2 linked regions of the Homo sapiens genome follow. The protein of the gene in region 2 interacts with the protein of the main gene of each other region in a pairwise test. Each region holds a gene or a part of one and is shown on either strand. Other genes may lie near its edges.

Region 1 (6,883 bases), on a different chromosome or scaffold from region 2:
AGCCCAGGATGGTATGTGTTCCTCCTTGTAACATCCCTAAAAACCTGATACTTCCAATCACTAAAAGGACCTCGGTGGTTCAAAAAAACAAAAAACAAAACAAAACAAAAAAGAAAAAACTTACATTAGTGTTGCCCTAAGAAATTCTTATAAAAGCCAGGTGTTGAAAGATAGTCAAGCAAGCCAGAAAGTCTTTAGAGACCAGTATATTCTCTCTGAAGGCAAACTACAAGGAAACTGATTCAATTAGAAAACTGCTAAGCCTAGAGTCAAACCAGAGCTAATAAGAGTATTAAAATTTATGTAGCAAGGAGTCTCAGCCCCAGCTGTTAGAAGCACCTGAATTTTAATAATTACCATTCCCTGGGCCCACTCTAGATTGCTATTAGTCTCATTGAACCCCAGGTAAAGATTTTTCTAAAGCCTTCCCATGTGACTGTAATGTTACATTGAGAAAACTGATCTGTAAAGAAATCAAACTATTTTAGGGGATTGTTCTGTGCACTTGCTTTAGAGAACATTTCATAGAATATTTCATTCTGTAACATAAATAAACATGCATTTTGCAAAAGCTCACTCCTTGTAAGAGTTCACAGGCAGGATGCCTTTACTGATGAGACCAAAACCAACAACCTAGGCTTCCTAAATCAGTGTTCATGAGAATCATCTGAGGTATATGCAGATTGACTCCAGCCCTAGATGGGGATTGAAACAAGCTCCCATGTAATGCCCTGGGAGCTTCTAACAAGTTCCCACGTAATGCCCATGCTGCCAGTAATGTAGAGGCCAATCTGGCTTTCGTTTCTGCCGCCAATTTCTAATATTGAATTAAAAAATGGATCATTTCACAGAAAAACCAAGAACTGTTTAAAAAAAGGGGGAATTGTGGAAATAGCTGCTTCAGACACGAAAAAGCAGCAACCAAGGATATCCCTACCTACTCTCAACTGCCAATGCTCATACCTGTAAAGTTTTAAAAGGGATTAACCAGAAATACACAACGAAAAAAAATCCCATCTATAATGGGTGTAAGTAGACAACGCGACTAACGCTTGAGACAATGTATATAAACGCCCCCAGGTGGCCCCTTCCACTACCAAATCGAAGCTCCAAACCCCTAAAAGCCAGTTTAGAAAAGGACGCTGACAATCTGGCACTTTCGGGAAAAAGCACGGGAACAAATATAGCAAGCTTACCATTAACTTTAGCCAATCAAATGAGGACTTAAGTACTAAAACCAATGTTTAGTTTCAAAGATTTGATTAGTTAATCACAGCTATTTTCGGGTGAAAGTAGGCGGCTCTTAAAAGAGCCTTTTTAAGTTGGATAGAATTACTGCCCGGAAACCTCTACGCTCTCTCCCCACGAATGCGGCGAGCGAGCTGAATGTCCTTGGGCATGATAGTCACTCGCTTAGCATGGATGGCACACAGGTTGGTATCCTCAAAGAGCCCCACCAAGTAGGCCTCGCAGGCCTCCTGCAGGGCCATCACCGCGGAACTCTGAAAGCGCAGATCTGTCTTGAAGTCCTGAGCGATTTCTCGCACCAGGCGTTGGAAAGGCAACTTGCGGATCAGCAGCTCAGTCGACTTCTGATAGCGGCGAATCTCGCGCAGAGCCACGGTGCCGGGACGGTAGCGATGAGGTTTCTTCACGCCGCCGGTGGCCGGCGCGCTTTTCCGAGCCGCCTTAGTGGCCAGCTGCTTGCGCGGCGCTTTGCCACCGGTGGACTTGCGTGCAGTCTGCTTGGTGCGGGCCATCTCAGACTACCTGAAAGAAAAACTCAGCCACTTGGCAGAGTGGAAACTGCCCTTATATATACTCAGAAACATTCTAATTGGCCTTGTTGATTTTCAAAAGACCCGCGCAACAAAACCATTGGCTGAAGAGTCCAACGATGTGATTGGTGAATTACTGGAAAATCTGATTGGATGAATCACTTCATTTTTGAATCCTCTCTTCTCGGTTAGTCTGCGATCCAAGAACGTTAACTTCTTAAAGTTCTAATTCTGCGCTTCTCAAGCTGTAGTCCGTAAACGACTACTTTAAGACTTGGAAGACGCTAATTCTCATTCAGTAGATGTGTTGTGGGGCCAGATTCGGAGGACCACGTTTTGAGAAGTTTATCTTGTGCCGTTTTCTTGAGTCACCTGGACTGCTGCTAGCTGGAAACCTTTGACCATTATAAGGCAGGATTCCTGGGTGATGTACCTGGGAAATCACGAGCCAAGAAGTCACCGACATACAACAGTGAGCAACAAATGTTAACTGAATTCTATTTTGTCCCAAATGGTGTTTTGCTTCGGTTGAGAATTTTTAAGGCACAGGCTAATTTTAGGTTTTCCAACGACTCTTATCATTTACTTTTCGTTGGGTCCTATTGATGATATTCCAGGATACCACCCCCACTAGCCTCTTCTGCAGGATAACTTGAACACTGCAGTGGCCCTGTCCATCTAAACTTTACAAGGTTTTGTAAACGTTACTGAACTTGCTTCTTCCCGACTACATTAAAGCACTTACTTGAGATATTAAACATTTTCTCATTAGTCCTGTTTGCCTAGTCAGTCACTTGTATAGACAGGGCAACAGCACGGCCTGAATATTGGGCAGGACACCGCCCTGCGCGATAGTAACTTTGCCCAACAGCTTGTTGAGCTTCTCGTCGTGGATGGCGAGCTGCAGGCGTCGGGGGGTGACGCGGGTCTTCTTGTCTCGGGCCGCGTTGCCCGCCAACTCCAGGATCTTGGCGGTCAGGTACTCCAGCACCGCCTCCAGGTACACCGGCGCACCGGCCCGGACCCGCTTGGCGTAGTTGCCCTTGCGGAGGAGGCGGTGCACTCGGCCCACAGAAAACTGGAGACCAGCCCTGGAAGAGTGCGTTTTAGCCTTGGCGCGAGCTTTGCTGCCCTGCATTCCACATCCAGACGCAGTGAAGTATTTAAATACTTGTTTAGAAGAAGGAAAGTGATTGATTCTAGTAAAACGCAAGAGCTAAACTCTTATAATCTATATTCGGCAAAGTAGACTGTGCTATCTCCTGAACACAGATTTCAGCCAATCGAAAAGCAGGTGTTTAAAAAAATTTAAAAAAAAAAAAAAAAAAAAAACCACTTCTGACTTACATACTTATAGTTGAAAGGTCAAATTATGCAAGGTTGAGCTTCTGGGAGAGCCGATGAGATTTAGGAGTTCAGAAATGGCCTATCATATATTCAGACACTAAAAGAACCAATGAGAAACCGAAACTCAGCCAGCCTCATTTGCATATACACGAGGTAAATAATGAGGGCGTTTGGGCTCACCAGCATTTTCCTGTGGTCATTTGACGGTATCACTTCGGCTGCGAACATGCCTGAACCAGCTAAGTCAGCTCCCGCCCCGAAGAAGGGCTCCAAGAAGGCGGTGACCAAGGCACAGAAGAAGGATGGCAAGAAGCGCAAGCGCAGCCGCAAGGAGAGCTATTCCGTGTACGTGTACAAGGTGCTGAAGCAGGTCCACCCCGACACCGGCATCTCGTCCAAGGCTATGGGGATTATGAACTCCTTCGTCAACGACATTTTCGAGCGCATTGCAGGCGAGGCTTCCCGCCTGGCGCATTATAACAAGCGCTCGACCATCACTTCCAGGGAGATCCAAACGGCTGTGCGCCTGCTGCTACCCGGGGAGCTGGCCAAACACGCGGTGTCGGAGGGCACCAAGGCGGTCACCAAGTACACCAGCTCCAAGTAAACTAGTTACCTGGGTAAAAGCGCTAACGACCCAAAGGCTCTTCTAAGAGCCACCCATGTTGTCATTTAAAGATCTGTAATTTTCCAGACTTGGCATTGGCAAGGTAAAATGGCTAAGCAACACATGGGATAGTAAGGGTTTACTGAAACATCCAAGTTCGGCCGGGCGCAGTGGCTCACGCCTGTAATCCCAGCACTTTGGGAGGCCGAGGCGGTCGCGTCACCTGAGGTCAGGAGTTCGAGACCAGCCTCGCCAACATGGTGAAACCCTGTCTCTACTAAAATATACAAAAATTAGCCGGGAGTGGTGGCAGGCAACTTAATCCCAGCTACTTGGGAGGCAGAGGTAGGAGAATCGTTTGAACCCAGGAGGCGGAGGTTGCAGTGAGCCCAGATAGAGCCATTGCACTCAAACCTGGGGTATAAGAGCGAGACATCTCAAAAAAAAATCCAGGTTCGTTGTTTTTTCCCCTATAGATTGTAAGCGTCACCAAGGAGTAAGCTCGTATGCAGCTTAATATGACACATTTCACTCAGCAGCTAAGGAAAAATCGTGTTCTAGATTGATCCCCACTTTTCTTCTCCCCGCACACCACCATCTTAAAATTTTGTTTTCGTTTTTAGTTTCACTTTATCATCCTATTGCCCTTGATTTGGAGTAGCCGGGTGGAAATCAAGTTTGGGGTAGTCTTAAATCTAAAATAAGGTCTGAGAAAGCGAAACTCGTCTTTTAGTTCGTTGTTAGCTTGCAAATGGTTGGAGCGGCATATGATGGAGGAAATCACCTCTGTTGGTTGCATTTCTAAACCATGGCAGATCGCTACCAGACGTTCTCATATCCCCCTTGCAAGTCCACTGATTTCTCTACAAATTTTACTGAGTTTATAATTACTGGATTACTTCACGTAGCTATACATATTACCTCTTGGCAAGATCAGGAACTCTACCATCTTCTTAGCTGAACATATTGAGGTTTAAGACAAAGAACAGGCAACAGGATAGCCTGAAGTTGGAGCAAAGAAATGAAAATTCCCGGTGCTACATTCAGACGCTTTTATCTGTAAGCCTTTTTAAGGCTCCAAGGACTGTGTTCTCCCTAAACCTCCTCCTCCGTGTCCTGGAACGACTTTGTCCACAGCTACTCCCTTTCTTGAAAATTCATTTTAAGAGAGGAGGGTTACAAGGAATTAACATTTGTGTGGTAGTCCTTAGAATGCATTATTTCATTCATTGATTTTTTTTTTCCTACAGTCAGCTGTGAAATGGAAGCTCCTCTTTTACAGGTGAATGACCTCAAGAATTAAGGTTAAGTAACTAGCCCCTTACACATAAATAAAACTGAGATTTGAATCTACTCTGATTCTAAGGATTACTTCCCACTGTTTGTTAGAGACCATCCCAAGCAGGAGCCTAGTTGCTGTCAGAGGAGTCAGGAAATTTAGGCTCAATTGTAATAAAAGAAAACTGGTCAGGAGATACACATATTCTTTGTTGCACAGCAAAGTCCTTACACCAGCAAAAGTTTCTTTTAAAAATAAAATAATATTAATGGTGACCTTTGGGCCCTAAAGATCACCTGGCAGCAAGTTTAACTTTTCTGAGCACTGTATTGTGGTGGGGAAAACATGGGCATTGTCAGTGTAAATGTGAGCTCTAAGATCTTATTTTCTATCTATTACCTACATGTCATTATCTGCAAATACCCACATAGCAGCTTACTGTGAACATTAAGTGACCAAAATTTGCTTTAAATTTTTTGTTTTGAGACAGGGTCTCACTTTGTCATCCAGACTGAGGTGTAGTGACACAACCACAGCTCACTGCATTCAACCTCCCTGGCTAGTGTTCCCACCTGTCTCCCAAGGAGCTGGCACTACAGGCACGCACCATCACACCCACTGAATTTTTTTTTTTTTTTAATGATTTTTGTAGAGCCAGGGTCCCACTGTGTTGCCCAGGCTAGTCTCAAAGTAAATTTGTAATGGAATTTGTGAAGAAAATTCTCTAAGCCCCAAATATAACTAAGGCATTCATTTCTTGCTCCCCAAAGCTAATTTTGAATACATTTTAAATTATATATTCATGAAATATTCAAGCATGGATTAAGGGGGACATCACTCAGGAAGTGATACAGTCCTGACTGATTGTTTCAATCCTAAGTTTGGGCAATTTATCTAATTCTTTTGTAAGCGCTTCCTTACCTGTTTATTCCAAACAGGAATAATAATTAGTAACTACTGCATGACATTGCTGGAGTGACGAATCAAAGAACACAGCTAAAGCACTTAGGACCGTGTCTGCACAGAGAATGACCCCCTAAATATTAGCTGTGGCTAAGCCTCTGGTTGAAGTGATAGGGAAGGTGCCTTTGGTCCTGCCCACATTTAAAGCCCAGAGTCCTAAGGCCTGGAATAATTAGCATTTGATGTGAAATGGGCTTCTTTGTCTGGCAGTGTAAATAATACTCTTTGAACAGTTCAATCCCATCTTTAAAGCCATTGTTTTCCTCTGAAGCATTTTGAAGACATCCTACTGCCTGTGGCTGTTTGATTTCCCTATCGTTGCTTGCCAGTTCAAGCAACGTGTCTCATATTTTCCAGGGACTGTCTCATGCCCTCACTGGAACTAGGAGTGCCCCATTTAATGGTCAGATGTGTTGAGTTGTAAGGAAACCTAGAAATTCACATGAGAAGTGCTTAGTACTTTTTTACTCTTTTTTCTTCCCAAGTTTCCTATTAACTTTGCTAACCTTGCTACATTTATTTTCCATCCATTTGTTGACTAGGTTTCCCTCATATACCTCCAAATCACAGCCCTGTTTTCAGATGAACTTCTGCACCTTGATAAGTATGTTCTTTAATTGGAACATAGGAAATTGGCTGGCTAACGAGGGCCACACTTTCCTGAATCCATTGTATCCCTGAGACATAGGTCACTTCAAAGGAAACTGATTGGTGTAAATTCCTGGCCTGAAAAGCTGAAGAACACCACCTCACCACTAGAGAAGTAACATCATTTTTAGGCTCTGATTTGAGTAGCTGCTACTATTGTATTTGTCACTCCTGCAGTAAATAATTTCTGAAAAGAACCAAGAAGTTACTATCTCCCATCTACCCTCAGCAGTGTGTATCTTGATGGCATTCAGAACATAC
Region 2 (8,087 bases):
CTGATTAGAGCGCCTGGCGGGGTGGCTGACGCCTGTAATCCCAGCACTTTGGGAGGCCAAGGTGGGCGGATCACCTGAGGTCAGGAGTTCAAGATCAGCCTGGCCAACATGGCAAAACCCCATCTCTACTTAAAATACAAAAATTAGCCAGGCGTGGTGGTGGGCAACTGTAATCCCAGCTACTCCGGATGCTGAGGCTGGAAAACCGATTGAACCTGGGAGGGAGAGGTTGCAGTGAGTGGAGATCACGCCACTGCACTCCAGCCAGGGCAACAGAATGAAATTCCACCTCAAAAAAAAAAGGTCGATTAGAAGAGGCTTCTCTTCCCGCAGGGCCCTCCCCTGCCCCTCTCTGTGCCCTGCAGCAGCCTCCTCTTTGGTACGTTCCACTCCCCAAGCCCTGCGTGGGCGTCCCACCCACCCCCCAGCTTCATTTTAATCTCTGCCCCTCCACACACCTCCCCACCCCCACCCCTGTCTATATATGAACGGCACTGGGTGGGAATTTCCCTATTGTTTTCTCGATTTCCTAGAGCAGCGTCTACTCGTGGTAGGTGCCCGACACTCACATGTTGAGTGAATGAGCAGATTCTCAAGGCTCCCAAGGGACTGACCCATCCAGGCAGACCCTTTCCAGTCTGGGATTCAGCACTCCCCATGGAGAGGCAGGGTTGGGCTGACAGCCTCCAGCCCTTGCTTGCCCCTGTTAGGTGTCAGCATGCAGCGGGCACCCAGCAGGTCCGACTCCCTTCTCTGCCCCTTTCCTCTCGGGCACTTTGCCATCCTCTGATTCCCTGACTCTCCACACAGCCAGGAGGGAGCCGGAGAAGCCACGACCCCCGTCCTGTGGCTGGCTTCCCAGAGAGAAGCTTGGGGCCCCTCCGTGGTGGGAAGCTCAGTGGGCTGCGATGGCAAAGGCTGAGATGGAGCCTGGGCCTGGCCCCCACCTCCTGCCTCCTCTCCCCAGGTGGGCCGAGCACCCCACAGATGGAGCCCATGTCCCTGCATGCGGTCAGCCGAAGGGTGTGAAAGGTGAAAAAGGGCCCTGTCCCCTGCACTCTGCCAGAGGCGGGGCCTGGACACGCTGCAGCACCCACTGGCCCAGGAGCCCTGAAGGCAGCCCTGGTGGGAAGAGGGTCTCCTGAATCGGCCTGGCAGGTGCAGGAGTCTGGGGAATCTGAGCCAGACAAGGAGGCCAGGGGTCGCTTCTGTACCCTCAGCTCCTAGCAGGGGCAGGCAAGGGCTCCAGAGACCGTTAGCCCAACCTCAACTCTCCAGGGACAGAGGTGAGGCCCAGATTGAGAGGGTCTGCCCGGGTGAGCCAGAGGCAAGGGGATTAGAAGCCACTCCCTTGACCTTCACCCAATATGCCAGCAGGGTCCCACCCTGCCTGGTGGGTCAGTCCCTCGGGGACCCTGAACACCCAGGCATTCATCCCACACATAATTACTGGGCACCTACCACGTGCCGGGCTCTGCTCCAGGAGCTGGGAAGCTGAGCGGGCCCAGGCAGAATGCCCCCTCTGTAATAAACAGAATAACAGATGGTATCTGCGGTGGGGTGGGGCCTCTTCACCCTTGGGGCCCCGAGAGGGTCCTTGCTCAACAGTGCCCCGTTGTCTCAGGGGATGGTCCAAGGCTCTTAGCCTGGCTAGCACCGGCCCACACACCCCACAGCTCGCTGCCACGTTGTGCTTCTGGCCCCACTGGCCATCCGCACTACCCACTGGCTCGCAGCCTCACCGGCTCACCGGGACCTCTGGGTGGAGTGTCGGCCACGCTCTGTGGGCATGCGTCCTCACAGGTGCGTATCTCAGTATCCTGGACACCAAATGCTTCGTCCACCACTGGACCTGGGGACCGAGCAGGGTGGCTCAGGGGACACTAGCTGGGACCATCTTTCACCCCTTGCTGGAGTCCAGTCCCCCAGGGTCGGCTGACATCTCCAAGATCCCAGCCCACTGGAAAGCACGTGATAACCCCAGGTGCCAGGTCCAGGCTGGCCGTGGGCCCCCAACAGCTGGGCGGATTCTGAGGGCAAGGTGTGGACCCCCAGCAGCTGGGCAGATTCTGAGGGCAAGGGTGTCTGTCTGCTCGGGCTTCTGTGTTCAGGCTTAGAACCCCCTCAGATGAAGGGCTCTAAATGGGCGGGAAGGTGGGGCTGAGGGGGCAGCCACTCATTTGTGGCCATCAGGCAGATCCAGCTTCGGGGAGGTTCCGCAAGGGCCAAGGTCCTGATATATTTGGTTACAGAAAAGGTGGGAATTCCAATCCCGCCCGCCGAGAACCACAGAACCTCACTGCCTCTGTAAAGCGGGGTTGGGCCCATCTACCTCGCAGGGAGCTGGGAGGAGAAAACGCACCCTGGGTGAGAGCATGGGGAAGCATCCTTCATTTGGGTCCAAGCTCAGATGCCACCTTCTTGGAGGGACCTTCCTGCGGAGGTCGCTGTTGAGCACATCCCCTGGCTCCATTTCCTGTGTGACTTGGACCTGCCTTAAATGATTTGTCCCAATATCCCTTTCCTACTTACAGCGACCGCACCTCCCGCCTGGCTGTGTGCTCCAGAGCATCTGGGGAATGACCGGGCCCTCCCCTCCAACAGGCCTAATTCAGTCCCCCATGCCAGGCAGGACCAGGGCACACGAGAATGGTGAAGTCCTGGGGCAACTGTCACCATGGCCTCTGCAGGCTCAGTGTCGGGAGACCCAGTTTCTGACCTGGATACACTGCTCACCTTTGAGGTCGGGGCCTAGAGGGACGGTGCCACGTTGGAGACAGGCCTCCAGGGACAGTGCCACGTTGAAGACGGGGTTCCAGGGACGGTGCCACGTTAGAGATGGGGTTCCAGGGACAGTGCCACGTTGAAGACGGGGTTCCAGGGACGGTGCCACGTTGGAGATGGGGTTCCAGGGATGGTGCCACATTGGAGATGGGCAAGTCTGGGCTAAGGGAGGAGGGCCCAGGGTGGCCAGGGCAGGGCCCAGTGAGGTGCTGCTCTGAGGAGGTGGAGAGTGGGCGCTTGGGCAGGGGACACTTGGAGAGTAAGGATGAGGTCCATCTGGGTACCCTGGGTATAGGGAGTGTTGTTGAAAAAAAGCCAAACACTATAAAATATTTGAAGATATTTATTCTGAGCAAATGTGAGGACTATGACCTGTGAAACCACCTCAGCAGGTCCTGAGAATATGTGAGCAAGGTGGCTGGGTAACAGCTTGGCTTTATACTTTTTTTTAAAATTTTCAGGTCTTTTCTGTAGAGACAGGGTCTCACCATGTTGCCCAGGCTGATCTCAAGCTCTTCAGCTCAAGCAATGCTCCCACCTTGGCCTCCGAGTATGCTGGGATTATAGGCAACAGTCACCATGCCCGGCCTGGTTTTACGGATTTTACAGAGACAGATGTTACAGGCCAAAACCATAAATCAACATATGTAAGATATACATTGGTTCAGCCTAGAAACAGGGTTGGCAGGGGCAGCTTCCAGGTCATAGGGGATTCAAAGATTTCCTGATTGGCAAGTGGTTGAAAGAGTTATGTTTTGCCTAAAGAGTTAAAGTGGGATTACTCACGCCTGTAATCCCAGCACTTTGGAAGGCTGAGGCAGGCAGATCACCTGAGGTCAGGAGTTCGAGACCAGCCTGGCCAACATGGTGAAACACCATCTCTACTAAAAATACAAAACATATATACACATATACATGTATATATATATACACATATACATGTATATATATACACATATACATGTATATATATACACATATACATGTATATATATACACATATACATGTATATATATACACATATACATGTATATATATACACATATATACACATATACATGTATATATACACATATATACACATATACATATATGTATATACATATATAGTGTATATATATACGTATATATATGTGTATATATACACTATATATGTGTGTGTGTGTATATATATATATACATACGTGTGTGTATATATACATATTAGCCAGGCGTGGTAGCACGCGCCTGTAATCCCAGCTACTTAGGAGGCTGAGGCAGGAGAATCGCTTGAACCCAGGAGGTAGAGGTTGCAGTGAGCCGAGATCATGCCACTGCACTCCAGCCTGGGCCACAGAGCGAGATTCTGTCTCAAAAAAAAAAAAAAAAAAAAAAGAGTTGACGTGAGTGGACAAAAGGTGCCCGACCTCCTAAGGGAAGGAGCTTCTCTAGAAAACGCGAATTTCGCCCCCTCAAGAGACAGCTGTGCAGTGCCATATCAAAACATGTGAAAGGAATGTATTTTAGGGTGGAATACTTTGCCTGCCTTCGGGCCTGCTGTCTGCCACGTGAGGCTGTGCCAGTGTGAGGCTGGAATTTGGGATCTGGAGGCTAGAGCCATCGGTGAGGCCTGAGTCTCTAAGCACAGCGCCCAGAGGGAGAGGGCGGAGCGGGTCCGACCCCCTTTGCGGCAGGGCCTGAGCTGGTTTTCCAGGTTTCTCTGGAAGCCCTGTAGAGGAGCGGAGGGTCCATTCGGTGGGCTGGGGACTTTGAATTTAACCTTGGTTTGCAAGAGGCTTCCAGAGAGGATGTCTGGGAGCGTCTCGGAGGGGGACGAGGGGGCGCCGGGAGGAGCAGGTGCAGGAGCCCACGGCGCAGCGCCCCGCGCAGGCCTGGACGCGGGGACGGCCGCGGCGGCCGGGACAGGGGTCACCCCGCGGGGCCCTCCAGGGTGGGCCGCCCCACGACCCCAGGCCAGGCCGAAACGGGAATCCTCCAGACCCCAGAAGCTGGGCCGGGCTGACCCCGCGGGCGCGAGCGGCGGGAACTGTAGGCGCGGCAGGCGCACCACCACCCCGCCCCCCGCCCGGGCGCTGTGCGCGTGCGCCGAGGTTGCCCCGCCCAGGCCAGGCCCCGCTCCGCCCCGCCCCGCGCACGCCGGCCGCGCCCACGTGACCGGTCCGGGTGCAAACACGCGGGTCAGCTGATCCGGCCCAACTGCGGCGTCATCCCGGCTATAAGCGCACGGCCTCGGCGACCCTCTCCGACCCGGCCGCCGCCGCCATGCAGCCCTCCAGCCTTCTGCCGCTCGCCCTCTGCCTGCTGGCTGCACCCGCCTCCGCGCTCGTCAGGTGAAGCCTCAGGGGCCGGGGCTCAGGGACGGGCAGGGGTCGCGGCGCCGAGGTCCCGGGGCCTGTGGTGACTTTCGCGCTCCCCTGTGGCCCCCACGAGCCCCTTGCGCCCCCCGCGCTGGAATGCACCTGTGCCGCCCTGCGCGGCCTCCTGCACGGACCACCCGCCTACGGGGCGCCGGGCTCCGGAGGTGCAGGGGACCCGGGGCAGAGGCGCCAGATGCCTCTCCCCCATATGCCACCCTGGGTTGTACCTTGAGGACTGCAGACTGACCGCAGCCTCCCTGGAGACGGGGCGGGGCGGGGGGAGGTAGTGCTCATTCGGGGCAGGTGGAATTGGGGTCTGTACTGAGCGCCCTTGTTGCTGGAGACCTAGGTCAGGCCTCAGAGCCCCCGAGTCTGGGCGAGTCCATTTCCTTAGGGACCCCTTTACCACCTGTGAACTGGGGGCTTTAAAAGTTTGCTCCAGCGGCTCTTATCACAGGCCCTGGGCTGGGAGACCCCTCGAGACCCTAGGAGTTCCCATGTCCCTGAGAGAGGAGGAGGCATGGGGAGTGGGTCGGCTCACCCACCCCGGGCCTGGGGTTGTGCTGTAGTGAGGCCCACACGCTCCTCAGGCCGATCCCCTGTGCCAGGTGAGGCCACCGATTGGGCCTGGATGGGATGGGGCCCGGCCATGCCTGACCAGCTGGGCAGAGGAGGGCCATGCTGCAGTCTGCTTTCTTGACCCCCTCCCCAGCCCTTGCAAGGCAGCCCGCATTCCCAGGAGGGGTATGCTGACCCATCCCATTGGGCACCTGCCCCACCCTTGCTCTGGGCCTTTGTGGGAGACCTGGGATCTGCGATGGGTCCACTGCCTTTTGGCAGGTGGGTGAGGTCAGAAGGCTGCAGGGGCTGGAGCTGGCTGGGCCAGCTGGGTAGGACTGAGCCTCACCAAAGGCTGTGGGGAATGGCCCGGGGGCGGGTAGCCCCAATTAAAGTCGTTGTGGGGGAGTAGCCACAAGCCTGAGCCTGCCTTGACCTTGCCAGCCTATCCACAGGCCTCCCCTCTCCAAGGAGGACAGACACAGCAGAGGGGAAACGATCCTGGGGCTTCTTGGAGGGAAGGGTAGCTGAATCCAAGCCCTCACCCGATTCCAGCTCTTGTGCGACTGATACTATTACACCTGCTTCCTGGTCCCTGGAGGGCGTGTCCCTCCCCCAGGACAAAACCTGGAGCTCTTCCAGCCCACCAGCTCTTAGGCAATAATCTCATCTTCCGGGATCACGCCCCTGACAAGCCAGGAAAAGCCAGCTATGACCTTGTACTCTCAAGTCCCTGGGGCAGGGAAGAGGTTTTATTTAAGTGATTAAAAGCCCAGGGGAGCTTCCTTGGAACAAGGAGTGGGTTCACACCAAGGGGAAGGCCAGTGGCCCTGGGGGAGGAGCAGGGACCCCTCTCTCTCTTACTCGCTTCCTGGGTTTAGAACTCAGGACCCCGATCTCAGTCTGGAGCTCCCTCCTGCACCCTGGCTGGCGGTGTGCTGGGTGACAGGACTCTGGAGGGGTACCCTGAGTGCAGCTGTCGGAGGAGGCAGGGCGGTGGGGGGGGCAGCACAGAAGCCTCTAAGGCCCCAGGTGCAGTCCTGGACCTCGTGGAGCCGCATGGAGTGAGGAGAGGTGCGGATGCCCAGAAACAGATGTGGGATGAGGGCACTGGGCAGCCACAGGGTCCATGTGGAGGAGGACAGGTAGTCAAGGAGGGCTTCTGGAGGTGGTGTGGAGGGCCCATCTGATGGCCAGAGGAGGCCAGGCAGAGCTGCCAGTGCCAGCCTGGAGGTGGGGCCACCTTCGTGCAGGTGTCTGGGGGTGGAGAGCAGGTGTGATGGGGGCTGGGTACAGTGGGCTGCCTCAGAGCACTTTGGGCAGGAGTGACAGGTACCCGCCAGCACCCTGAGCAGCCATGCTGGCCACCATCCTGGAAGAGACCAGCGCAGGTGCAGAGGGAGGACGGGAGACCCTTGGGGGCTTTGGAGCCTCCAGAATGGCTGAGGAGAGGAGGGTTGGGCACACTGGCCCCCAGGTTGGGTGTGTGGGGCTGAGGTGGGTGGCGGGTGACCACTTCTTAGGACTGTGGCCTGTGCAACCTGGCGGGGGGCAATGGGTTGCCATTCACTGACTTGGGGGAGCTGGGCCAGCAGTTTCCAGGTGACAGGCAGGAGTTTGGTTTTGGCTGTGGCGACTCTGAGATTCCCCAGGGGCCTCCAGGTGGATGTGCAGCATTGGCAGCGTCGGCCGGCAGGCGGGAGGGCCTCCCTGATATGCCCCGACCCGTGGTTGACAGGATCCCGCTGCACAAGTTCACGTCCATCCGCCGGACCATGTCGGAGGTTGGGGGCTCTGTGGAGGACCTGATTGCCAAAGGCCCCGTCTCAAAGTACTCCCAGGCGGTGCCAGCCGTGACCGAGGGGCCCATTCCCGAGGTGCTCAAGAACTACATGGACGTGAGTATGAGGTCTTAGCCCTGCTGCAAGCGGAGCCACTGTCAGGAGAGCTCCGTGGCAGTATGGGGAACATTCCCACCTCCTGTTCTCAGCAGCGCAGTTTGAGTGGCTCACCTGGCCACGGTGGCGTCCCGGCTCAGCCACACTCCTTTCTTCCCCATTCTGGAACCTCCTGCCACTGGCCCCTGTCATTGCAGGGTCTTGGTCCTGCTAGGGCCTGGGAGGGTGATTGGGAGTGGCCTCGGGCCTTGGTGCCAGCTCGCCTGAGGGGGCGGTCCTTGGGCCTGCCTGAGTGTGGCCGGCTGACCTGGAGCCTTTCACTGCTGTCCTGCTGGGAGGCCTGTGGTGACTCGTGGCCTCCCCAGCCCCTCCCCATCTTCTTCCTCTCGCAACAGCCCCTCCTGTGCCCACTACTCCTTCAGGGGGAAGCAGGATCCAAGGTGGAGCACTCTGGAAGCCACCTAGCAAGCTGGGGCTTGGTCAGCCTGG

What was found. Proteins that work in one complex are often made in the same cells at the same time.
Region 1: the proteins of CTSD (region 2) and H3C8 interact in binary tests that used the Homo sapiens proteins (3 or more experiments, as listed by UniProt).

What each region holds. Positions count from the first base shown.
Region 1 is NC_000006.12:26,269,625-26,276,507, forward strand, and holds H3C8 (histone H3.1), read right to left. Parts: upstream 1,790-6,883; 5' UTR 1,761-1,789; coding exon 1,350-1,760; 3' UTR 1,294-1,349; downstream 1-1,293. Other genes in the region: H2BC10 (histone H2B type 1-C/E/F/G/I), read left to right, coding at 3,352-3,732. UniProt on the Homo sapiens protein: Core component of nucleosome. Nucleosomes wrap and compact DNA into chromatin, limiting DNA accessibility to the cellular machineries which require DNA as a template.
Region 2 is NC_000011.10:1,760,820-1,768,906, reverse strand, and holds the start of CTSD (cathepsin D preproprotein), read left to right. Parts: upstream 1-4,979; 5' UTR 4,980-5,047; coding exon 5,048-5,115; intron 5,116-6,420; exon of another isoform or gene 6,421-7,438; coding exon 7,439-7,598; intron 7,599-7,712; exon of another isoform or gene 7,713-8,087. UniProt on the Homo sapiens protein: Acid protease active in intracellular protein breakdown. Plays a role in APP processing following cleavage and activation by ADAM30 which leads to APP degradation.